2 separate regions of the Homo sapiens genome follow, and region 2 is linked to region 1. The links come from fine-mapping of genetic effects on gene expression. A gene starts in region 1. The other region holds a variant in brackets. All regions are shown on one strand. Distances are from middle to middle. Region 1 holds the start of FRMD3 (FERM domain containing 3). Region 2 overlaps FRMD3 (FERM domain containing 3).

The links. PIP is the estimated chance that this variant, and not a neighbour inherited with it, causes the effect.
Region 2: its variant is fine-mapped to the expression of FRMD3 in whole blood (TOPMed, PIP 0.94).

The regions. Positions count from the first base shown.
Region 1 is chr9:83,536,224-83,541,609 of GRCh38, reverse strand. It overlaps FRMD3 (FERM domain containing 3), which reads left to right and starts at 3,209. Exons shown (of 14, transcript NM_174938.6): 1 at 3,209-3,525. The coding sequence starts at 3,379. RefSeq lists a silencer at 4,962-5,256.
Region 2 is chr9:83,244,874-83,250,259 of GRCh38, reverse strand. It overlaps FRMD3 (FERM domain containing 3), which reads left to right. Exons shown (of 14, transcript NM_174938.6): 14 at 1,744-5,386. The coding sequence ends at 2,342. All of the region lies in intron 2 of FRMD3-AS1 (FRMD3 antisense RNA 1), which reads right to left. Among named protein-coding and RNA genes, the nearest start is that of FRMD3-AS1, 28 kb to the right of the region's middle. The variant AG/G (reference allele first, on the strand shown) is at 2,382.

The DNA.
Region 1 (5,386 bases):
CACAACCATCTCTTGCTACAAAGAACAGCCACTTTGGTGCTTTTCAAAGATGGCAGTCCTTCCTTTGCCAATGATTCTTTGAAAATCTTGGTGGATGCCCCCTCAGGGGACACAGTTAAAGAGAGGTAAGCTGGCCACATGTGGAAATACACTGCAATATTTCCATCTCCTTGATTCTTTGGATCTTTTCCTGTACATGTACCAGGGAATTTCCTTTTTCTCATCTTCATTTAGCTGAGTCCAGAAGTCAGTTAGTCAATTTAGATAGTACATTGAAACCAGAGTCATTGGGAAGTGAATTCAAATGGACAGATTCAGGTTTATTCACACATATACTCTTCAATGTAAATTAGCAGAATCTTGCAATTCTTTCTCTTCTTGGGGTTGACTTTATAGTTGGTCTCCTAGGGTGTGACTGAATCTGGTTCAAGTATTAAGAGTGAGAGTAGTCAGAGATGGTGGGAGAGGGGTGGGAGGAGATCGGCTTCCCTTTCCAAGGTAACTGCCTTAAGTGAGTTCCGAAGAGGATCTTCAAACAAAGCAGGAACAGCCTCGTTACATAAGGAAGAGGGCATGCTTCTGCTGCCAAGGGAGTTTGGGGGCTTGAGTGACTAGGAATCATTCAAGTTTTCTTTTATAGTCCTATTCTTATTCCCAGATTCCCACTCTTTCCTGCTGATAATTATAAAATCTTGTGAGGCCGATAATTCAATTGACTTTGTAATTTGGCGATTTGTAGATGAAATTGTGAATTTGGTTTTTCAGTTTTGGCCTTGTGGCTCAATTAACAAGATATTCTTTGAGCTCTGTTGTTTGTAAAAATACAGTTGTTTAAAAGTCATAAGCTGATAATTTAGGACTTAGTGCATCACTACTTTTCTTTCAGTGGTCCAGTTTTAAACTCATCCCTTGAGTTCATTCTTTGAGTTCTTCCTAATCTTCATATTATTATTATTATTGTTGACAATGGCCAGTTGGTTTCCCAGAGCCTTGTCTTCATTGGGTAGTTCAATCCAGGTGACCATACTTGGTAATTTACCTAGCTGTCATGCCAAGTGCTTCCAGAGCCTGTATTTTCATACTAGTTGAATCTCAGCCTTTATTCCTAATCAGGCCAGACAACCAATCTCAGATTCTTCTCATTTCTTCAAAATTCTGTTTCTTACAGTCCCACATTGGGTTATCTTTATTCTGTCTTTTTCACTACTGTCCTTGTTGGTCTTATTTTGCTTCCTTGGAATTTGGGGTAACAATTTTTGGGTATTGATATGACTCTTTTGGAGCCTAACGGTCACTATAATAGGATGGACAAGTGTGTGTGTGGTCTTAAAAGAAAAGCATGGACTGTTTGGCTGGTGACTTTTCTTTGATCTCTGGGCTGTCTGCTCTTTTGGCTAGCAGAGATGATCCAGTTTTCAACTTGGGGCAGGTCCCATCCCTGCCACCTCATATGTGCATATGGGGATTTACAGATTACAGCTGTAAGATGTCCTCCACTGACCCGGTGTCATACCAGCTTCCCAGCCACCTGTGGGATGAACAGGTGTTCTCTCCTTTGAAATGAGAAAAGAAATGGAGAGACTTTTCAAAGATCCCCAGGATTAGCCAGTAGCTGGGCCAAGAATGAAATCCACATCTTCCCATACCCTCAATACTGACCTCTCCATCAGGATCTGCCCTAACATTTGAAGGGCCCAGCTCAAGAGCCTACATGAATGCCCCATACTATCATCTAAATATTCATAAGCAATAGTCAGCTATTGAGTGCTACATAAAACATTCTCTATCCTCCTATCTTGACAAATTGTTGCAATTTGGAATTTCCAGGAGCAGATACTGAGACTGAGTTTGTCCTGTGTGGTATTTATTAGTGATCAACAGGGAGAGGAGGCAGGAGCAGGCAGAGAGAGAAGTCCAAATGCAATGCGGACTCCCCCAAACCTTAGCCAACCCCACTAGGTGTCCTAGAGAATATATGGCCCACCAGACTGTCCAGGGCAGGTAAAATTTGTGTGCCACTCTTCCTCGACCCCCAGGACAGGGCATATCTTTGGATGAGGGGACTCTATGCAGGCACAAACCTTGAAAAAGCTGACAGCTGGTCAACACCTCCTCTTCTAACAAATGTTCCTTCCTAATGACCTGTTCTGCTCCGGCAAGAGCAACAGGGTGAGAGGACTTCCATCTCTCCCAGCTCCTGGACATTCTAGTGCTCACATTCAAGCTCCATACCCCTGACTCAACAGCTGCTCCTGGCCACTCTCGGGCCTACGGTACCTGACACAGTGGCTCTAGCCACCTTGGGGACAACAGAGAGGCAGGATACCTCCTACCTTCAACACCCTGGAGGCGCGTGGGGAATTCCAGAGTCCTCAATACCCAGAGATTGGACTAAAACGGGATGGGGCACATCCGCTTTGCCATTAGACCTCTTAATTCCTGAGCAACCGGGAACTGGAGGAGGTCTGTAAAGCAGGGGAGTAGGATAGGAACCTATCCCTCTTGCTCGGGTCAAAGGTATGCTATCAAAGATCACACTAAGATGTTGGGAGATTTAAAGGAGGATTTGCACATGGAAGGCTCTTTTTTGGAGAAAGAGACTGAGTCCTAGCTAGCATTAAATAAAACAATGGCTTAAACAATCTCCATGAGTACCAGAGATTTTTACTATTAGCGATATTCCTGGTGTAGCCGTGTCAGGGCTGTCACTCTCTCTGTCACTCGCCCTGGGCCCAGCAATCCTTTCCCGAGGCGGAATCCCCCTGGCGGTGTGGGTCAGGATCGCTCTCCGTCCCCTACCCGCGCCAGGTCCCTGGAGCTGAGCAGAGCAGGGCGCTGTCGAGCGCGTTGGGGAGCCGGGGCCGGGACGAGCACAACCGGGAGCCCGAGCGACAGCGGCCAGGGGAGGGAGGAGGCGGTGAGGCTGAGGAAGGCAGTCGGGCCCAGCTTGACGCAGCGGCGGCTGCGACTGAGCAGGCCACCACCAGGGCACCCGGGCCAGCCGCGCCAGCCATCCCTCCGCCTCCTCCTTCAGCTGCTCGGCGCGCGTGGGAGTGAGTGCGTCGCGAGCCCGCCGGGGGTCTCAGGCTCTGGGCGTCCTCGGCGAGCGAGCCCGGGCAGAGGGAGGCGCACGAGCGCGCGCGACAGAAGGAGGCGGGGAAAGGAGGGGGCGAGGCGGAGGCGAGCGAACAGAGGGAGGGACCCGCCCGCCGCGCCCCGGCCGCTGGGCATGTGTGTCCGCAGGCGCCCGACGCTGCCGATGTCCCGGGGCTGAGCCGCGCCCAGGTGTCCCGGACAGTGCGTGCGAGCGTGTGTGTCCGCGCAGGCGAGCACCGCGCCGGCCCTGAGCCTCCCGCTCGCTCCCCACGGCCGCGGTGCATGTTCGCCTCCTGCCACTGTGTGCCGAGAGGCAGGAGGACCATGAAAATGATCCACTTTCGGAGCTCCAGCGTCAAATCGCTCAGCCAGGAGATGAGATGCACCATCCGGCTGCTGGACGACTCGGAGATCTCCTGCCACATCCAGGTGCGCGTGGAACCGGGCGAGGGCGCGGGGCACACGCCGGGAGCAGGGCGGGGGGCCTTTGCGGTGGGCATGCGAGAACAAGGAACCCACTCCCGGAGGGGATTGGGGGACTGCTAGAAAGCCAGATTTCGATTCCTCAGGCCTCTGAGGGTGGGGGGCCTTATCCTGGCATGGAGGGGCATGGTGCCCTGCAAGCGCCAGGCACGCGTTATCCGCGCCCAGTCTCCTTCCCCTCGCGTGCACCCTGCGCGCGCGTCTCACTGCGCCCGGGCTAGGGGCGCGGGGCAGCTGCCTCCGGAGGGACTCTGGCCCCTCTGGGCCCTACTCCGCCAGGAGATGGGAGCTCCGAGGGCTGAGAGGGGCACCTGCATGTCGCCCACTGGTATTTCCTCCCTTCTTCCACGTGGAGAAGGCATGCATCAGCTGGGTTCACTCATTTCTGTCTCCCGCGCCCAGGCTCCGGAGACGCCCTCAGTCCCGGAACCTGCTTTCCGCTCCGTGTCGGTCCCCCTCACCCTCCGCCGGTGGTCTTTAGTTCTCCGCGTGGGGCGGTGGCGAAGTTTCCCCAGAGTGAGAGAGGCCGGGCTGCCCTGGGCGCCAGCCTTGAGGGATGGAGCGCGCGCTGCGCCGGACTGGAGCTACCTCGAAAGGAATGTGTGAAGTCTGAGTGTTTCGGAGAAAGGAAAAGGGATTGTGAGGCCAGCAAGTGGGGAGCCCTGCAGGAACCTGGGTCCTGGGTAAAAGAGCCCCGTGGAATCTTGGTGGACATTCACTGTCGCCCAAGTTGGAGGAGAAGGCGAGTTGTTTGGGAGAAGGCAGCTTTGCTGGCAGCCCTGTCCTCGGGTAGTAAGTGCCTCTGGGCTGTCAGGAGAGCTAGTGTGAGGTGCAAAGGTGTGTGTGTGCATGTGGTTGCGCGTGCGTGTGCATATTTGCTGTGGGTGAATATGTAGGCAGGTGGGAGCCCCTCTTCCAGGACCCCAAAGATGCCCCACTCGGTGCGCACACAATCAGGAAAGGTTGTGTCAGGGCTCAGCACAATTAACTTCTGACTTCTAAATCTATTTAACTGTTTATCTCTGGGATTTCCTTTCTCACCTACCCTAGTCGAGTCTTGAGGCTCTGGGACTGAGCTTTTTTTTTTTTTTTTTTTTTTTAGTGTAATACAGGGCACACCACCCATGTCAGTGGGAGGTGAGTGGGGCAGCATCTCCCAGAGTAGGAATCAGCCTCTAGGCTGTGCAAACCATGAAGGAATGAAAGGACTTTCCCTGTTTTATTTTTATTTAATTTTTGTTAGTGGGAGTGTGTGACATGTTGGGGGCAGTTGCAATTAATTTGTAACCTGACAGCCGGACAAGTGTCAAGGTAGGAATGTGATGCCCCATGATCTCCCAGGAAAGTAGGCTCCCATTGAATTTTCTGGGGGAGCTTGAATTTCATTCTGAGCTAAGCAGCACTGCTAAACTTAATAATAAAAGGATTAGCAGGATAGGCAGTGTTTCTACTGCCACAAGGGTTGCACAGAAGCATCTGGCATGTACTAATAGTCTTGTGATCCAGAGAGTGTGGACTGTGCACTTTGCTTTAAGTCCTAAAGTGGGTGTACAGGTCCTTTAACCCATAATGAATGTGTAGATGATGGAGGGGCCGTCAGGGAGAGAGGCTGTTGAGTTCTCCTCTGTCTCTCAGCCCTCTTCTGCCCTGTACCACTTGGTGTTGACATTTTTTTCCCCTCCCTCAGGATGAAGTCTTCCTTAGAATAATAAATATTCCCCAAAGGACATGTATTTGTTGTCTTGTGTTTTGAGAAACAATAAATTGTAGCCAGTCTAACAACAGTTTGAAAAACTCCAGTGCTTAT
Region 2 (5,386 bases), 290 kb after region 1:
TTCCTGGGTGGGGTCACACAATCACTCAACACTGCACTTGGCTGGGGGTCGGGGTGGGGTCTCCTTTGCTTCTGTGCATCTTCCAGGTGGGCCATCACCCCCTCTTCTGCTTTTCTTTATTCTCTGTGGGTTGAGTTGTTTGCCCAGTCAGTCCCAATGCGAGAACCTGGGTATCTCAGTTTGAAGGTGCTGCATTTACTAGCCCCTTTTTATTCATCTCCATGAGTGCTGCAGACCACAGCTGCCTCTAATTGGCCAGCTTGGGTTCCAGCGTTCTGAGTACCTGTTTTTAAGTCTTTGGAGTATGTACCTGGGAGTGGTATTGCTGGGTCATCTGATAACTTTATGTTTGATTTTTTGAGGAACTGTCAATTTTTTTCTCACAATGGCCAGAACCAATTATAGTTTCACTGGCAATATGCAGGGTTCTAATGTCTTCACATCCTCACCAACACTTGTTATTTTCAGTTTTTAAAAAAGCTGTTGCCATCTGAGTAGGCATAAAGTAGCATCTTATTGTGGTTTTGACTTGCATTTCCCTAATGATTAATGATGTTCAGCATACTTTCATGTGCTTGTTGACCTTTTGTATATTTCTTGTATTTTTATGGTATTTTTCATTTGGACTTCTCAGTGCTATCAGACTAGAGCTATCATGAAATATCTGTTGATTTTTGAATGCTAAAACCAGTAAGTTATGCCTGTACACCTTGAAGAGAGAAAAATCACATAATAGATTCATTAAAAGCTGGTTTATGGTTCCCGAAATGCACCTGGCTGCCATTTTGATTGTATGGTAGATCCATCCTGGAGGACACTTCTTTGATGCTAACTTTATTTCCCACTATGGATCCAAGACTCAAAATTAGCAGAGTTAGCCCTAGGTCTGACCATAGGTAACTCGATTTCCCATCAGTAAAATGAGGCATTGAGAAACACCTCTCTCTCAATAAACATTAGAAAAAGTTCTTACCCTTTGATTAAGCAATTTCCCTTCTAGCATCTATCTATAGCAAATGAACTAAAACAAGAGGGGAAAAAAAGCTTTATATGTAAAGATGTCTCATAGCATTTTCTCCTTACAACTGCAAAGCAATCTAAATGTTTGACAATAGGCAACTAATTTATTGCATAACTAAATAAAAAATTTGGCAGCTTTTATAAATAATACCAATGGGAATTTGTTTAAACATAGAAAATATTTATGTTAAAATTTTAAATGCAAGGAGCATGATTTAAGCTTGGGTATATAATATGATTGCAAATATATAAAACTAGAACACAAAATTGTGTCTAGAATGAAGACTAGAAAGCAATACATCAGAATAATAAAGAGATTGTCATTGAATGACAGATTCTGTTGTTTTACTATAATATATCGGGTGATATTGTTGACCTCTAAAAAAACAGTGCTCATAATTATAATAGTGAATTTATTGTCATTTTATTCAAGCAAACATGGCCAAGGTTCAAGGTTTGCAGATCAAAATTGCACACCTAAATGTTGTAAATATTGCCAACCATTTGAGAAGTGTTGGTTAGTTTGAGTTTAGCATGTTGACCTTTGAACTTATGGTACAGGGTCTTTTACTATAATACGACTTTGTTACAACTTAGGATACCACAGAATAATTTCATAGATTGCTTGAATCCCATTAGTTTTTTGTTTTTCTGTTTCTTCCTGCAGATTTTTGTGGGAAAATCTGAAATTTTAAATTTAGAAAAAAAAATGTCTCTTTACAGGTGTTCCATTGCCTAAAGAGGAGAACATTTCTGCTCCCTTGATCTCCAGCTCCCCAGTGAAGGCAGCCCGGGAGTATGAAGATCCCCCTAGTGAAGAGGAAGATAAAATAAAAGAAGAACCTTTAACCATCTCTGAACTAGTGTACAACCCAAGTGCCAGCCTGCTCCCCACCCCTGTGGATGACGATGAGATTGACATGCTCTTTGACTGTCCTTCTAGGCTTGAGTTGGAAAGAGAAGACACAGATTCATTTGAGGATCTGGAAGCAGATGAAAACGCCTTTTTGATTGCTGAAGAAGAGGAGCTGAAGGAGGCTCGCCGTGCTTTGTCGTGGAGCTATGACATTCTGACTGGCCATATTCGGGTGAACCCACTGGTCAAGAGTTTTTCCAGGCTCCTTGTGGTGGGCCTGGGACTGCTGCTCTTTGTATTTCCCCTGCTCCTCCTCCTTTTGGAGTCAGGTATTGATCTCTCCTTCTTATGCGAAATCCGCCAGACACCAGAGTTTGAGCAGTTTCACTATGAATACTACTGTCCCCTCAAGGAGTGGGTGGCTGGGAAAGTCCACCTCATCCTCTACATGCTGGGTTGCTCATGAAGTTAATCTCTCACGTGACTAAGGGCTATATTCAATGCT[AG/G]TGATTTCTTTTTTTCAGCAAATGCCTGGTTCTGAAGGGTCACGGGGCTGTCAACAGGTGTTCCTTACTCATAATTGATTATTCAAACCTTTAAGTTAGCTTTCCATAATTCACTGCACTTAAATAAGTTTAAATCAAATACAGTTATTTTAGTTACAGGTTAGGAAGATGGTCTTTAAATAACCAAAAATATGTTTATTTTTTATTATAGTGTAGACATACCCTTCATCTATTATATCATAATACATGTTACATTGGACTGAATTAGATTTTCCCATTTCTAATAGTTGGCACCATTATAAGCTATAAGGTTCAGAATCAGAATTTTAGTAACAACTCAAGAGAAAGTTGTTGAATATAATCCTTAGTGAAAACAGTGTCCTCTAACCAATGCCTATACAACTAAATTTATGCTGGGTTTTTGGTTCTGTTTTTTTAAAAATATTTTTATGTGTTCAAACTATTTTGGTAAATTTTTAGCAAAAAAAAAAAAGAAGCCTCCTGGAGTTATTTACATGTACAGATTGTAAGACTAATGCACAAAAGGTATATCAGAATTTTTTTAATGTTTTGGCGCTACTTTGTTTTTAAAAATATTTTTGGCTGAACAATACCATAATTTGTTATGATCTGCATAGGAGATAGAAAATGGGTAGAAAGACACTATAGTAAGTAAGCTGCTAAAACAGAGGATGGAACTGGAGGATGTAGAAACTGAGAGCATCAAGTGGACTCAGGGTGGTCCATTTTTCAAAGTATTTGGACAAGAGGACTTGTTATTTTCATTTGTATTCTGTCCGTATATTTTGGCTGGAGAAGCAGATGTTTTAAAAAGAAAGTGAGAGTTTAAAGGAAAAAAGGTAACAGATGTGCTAGTCAGTTGCATATCAATGTACATTAACCCAAGAGTGAAGGCAGATAGGAACTGGAGAAATGGAAAGTGGCAAAAATGAGTTCTGGTGAGGCTGGCAGGCAAATGGTGACAGGCGAATGGTCTATTTTATGAAAGTGATGGTGATGCCAGCGTTCGATGATGTGAAGAGCAGTGCAGTCGCTGTCTGAGTTAACATGAACATGTTTAAGTGGATCTAAATAAAAGTGGAGAAACTTTAAGGTAAATATTTTGATCCCTCATGCCATTTGTTGTGATTCTGTAGAAGAAACTTCAAAAATGTGTTTGTATGTGAGTGTGCGTGTGTGTGTGTGTGAGAGAGAGAGAGAGAGAGAGAGAGAGAATATGAATGGCTTTTTGATACATGTCCATGATCATGTTTTGCGGTGGTCATTATACTCCTTTCCTTTCCCAGTTGTTTTAAAATTTGACTTCCATAGAGAAACTGGAGAGGCCTCATGAGATGACATACCAGTTCAGCCTGGGTAAAGTAGTGACATGACCCTAACCAGACTGTAGAGGGGACCAGTGCTCTAGTACCTTCCTTGATACCATTAAATCCATGATGGAAAGGATTTAATCCAACAATTTAATGGTATCAAGGAAGGTACTAGAGCATTGTACCATCAGCAACGTACTGATGCCTTCCCATGCAGACTACCTGCTGATACTGTGTTATGTGGGAGAAAGATAAGAGTCTAGAACTTATGCCATGGAGCATAGAGCTTCTCTGTGGATTGAAAACATTCCACTGCCCTAATGTACAAAGTTACAGGGCCCACTTGGAATCGCTCTCTCTAGCTAATGACATTCCAACCCTATCATTAGCATGATTTCTAAATTGGGCAATACATTTCCACTCACTCAGTGGAGCTCTGAGTACTTCACTGGACATTTAATTTTGGAAATGAGTTTTGAAACTCAGTTCGTGAAGCCTGCAGTCGAGCAAATGACTATATATTTGCCATTAAGTTTGAGGGGTTTCCTTTCCTATATGCTTTCAGTGATTTATTTTGCTTTTTAAATAAAGATTGTTTGTTTATTACCTGAAAGTTGATACTGATTTAGGAATATATTTTCTGTGATTGGAATCCTCAACAATTTATTTTGGAAGCTTGCAGATGGCTAGGTTTGAAATTGAAATTTGTGTTTTTCTCCTTCTTTTCTCATACGACTTCTAAGTCATCCTTTCTGACATAAGGCAACTTTAGTGTAGTCTGCACAAAATTAGTCCCCTTCTGATCATGCGTCATATAATTTTCTCTAAAGTTCTGACTATGACAAATCATCTGGCCCTCAGTCTTTCAAAATAATATTATATAATATTTTTTAAATTATGGAACTAATATATTTTCCATTGTAAAATACTTAAAAAATATGATAGTATAAATATCACATGTAATCCAACGATGCAGATTTATCTTAAGGAGTAATAAATATATTATTTTAACATTTCCAGCTAACATCTCTTTTCTCTTAGGTGGAAACTTCATTGTTGAATAGAAATGTTTTTAAGTGAAGAAGTTGACAGAATAGGGTCTGCTGAATTTAAACAGCCATCAAAAGTTAAACTGGAATCTTGAAATGCCATTTGCTCGGCATAGAATCAGAGCCTTTTAGAAACATCCATTTAAGTTTTGTTAGAAGATAGTCACCAGTTGCCTGAATCGAATGAGGAAAAGCCTGCTTCCAGAGATGGACAGTATATTATAGAGTGAGATATAGAGTTTAAAGCAAGTGTGTGAGTATATGTATATTCCATATTATTGGTATATGTGTGTTTATATATGAATCTGTATATATGTGTGTCTTTGAATAGACACAACATATATGCCCCTCATGCATAATTGTGCTTATTTTGCCCTAATTGAGGAATTTGAGATGTATTATTGGTTCTTCTCCCTCTCAGATACTATGGTGGGTAAAACCCACAGCCTGAAAGGGTTAAATTTTCCATAAATGCCACTGAGTGTACATTTGTGGATATAAATAAATATATATAATACACACACACATATGGCAAATACATATACACACACAATATTGCCTTTAGTGCTAATGCAAGTTGGATCATGAAAACAATGTAGGTAAAGTAAAGTATGTATTTGTCTG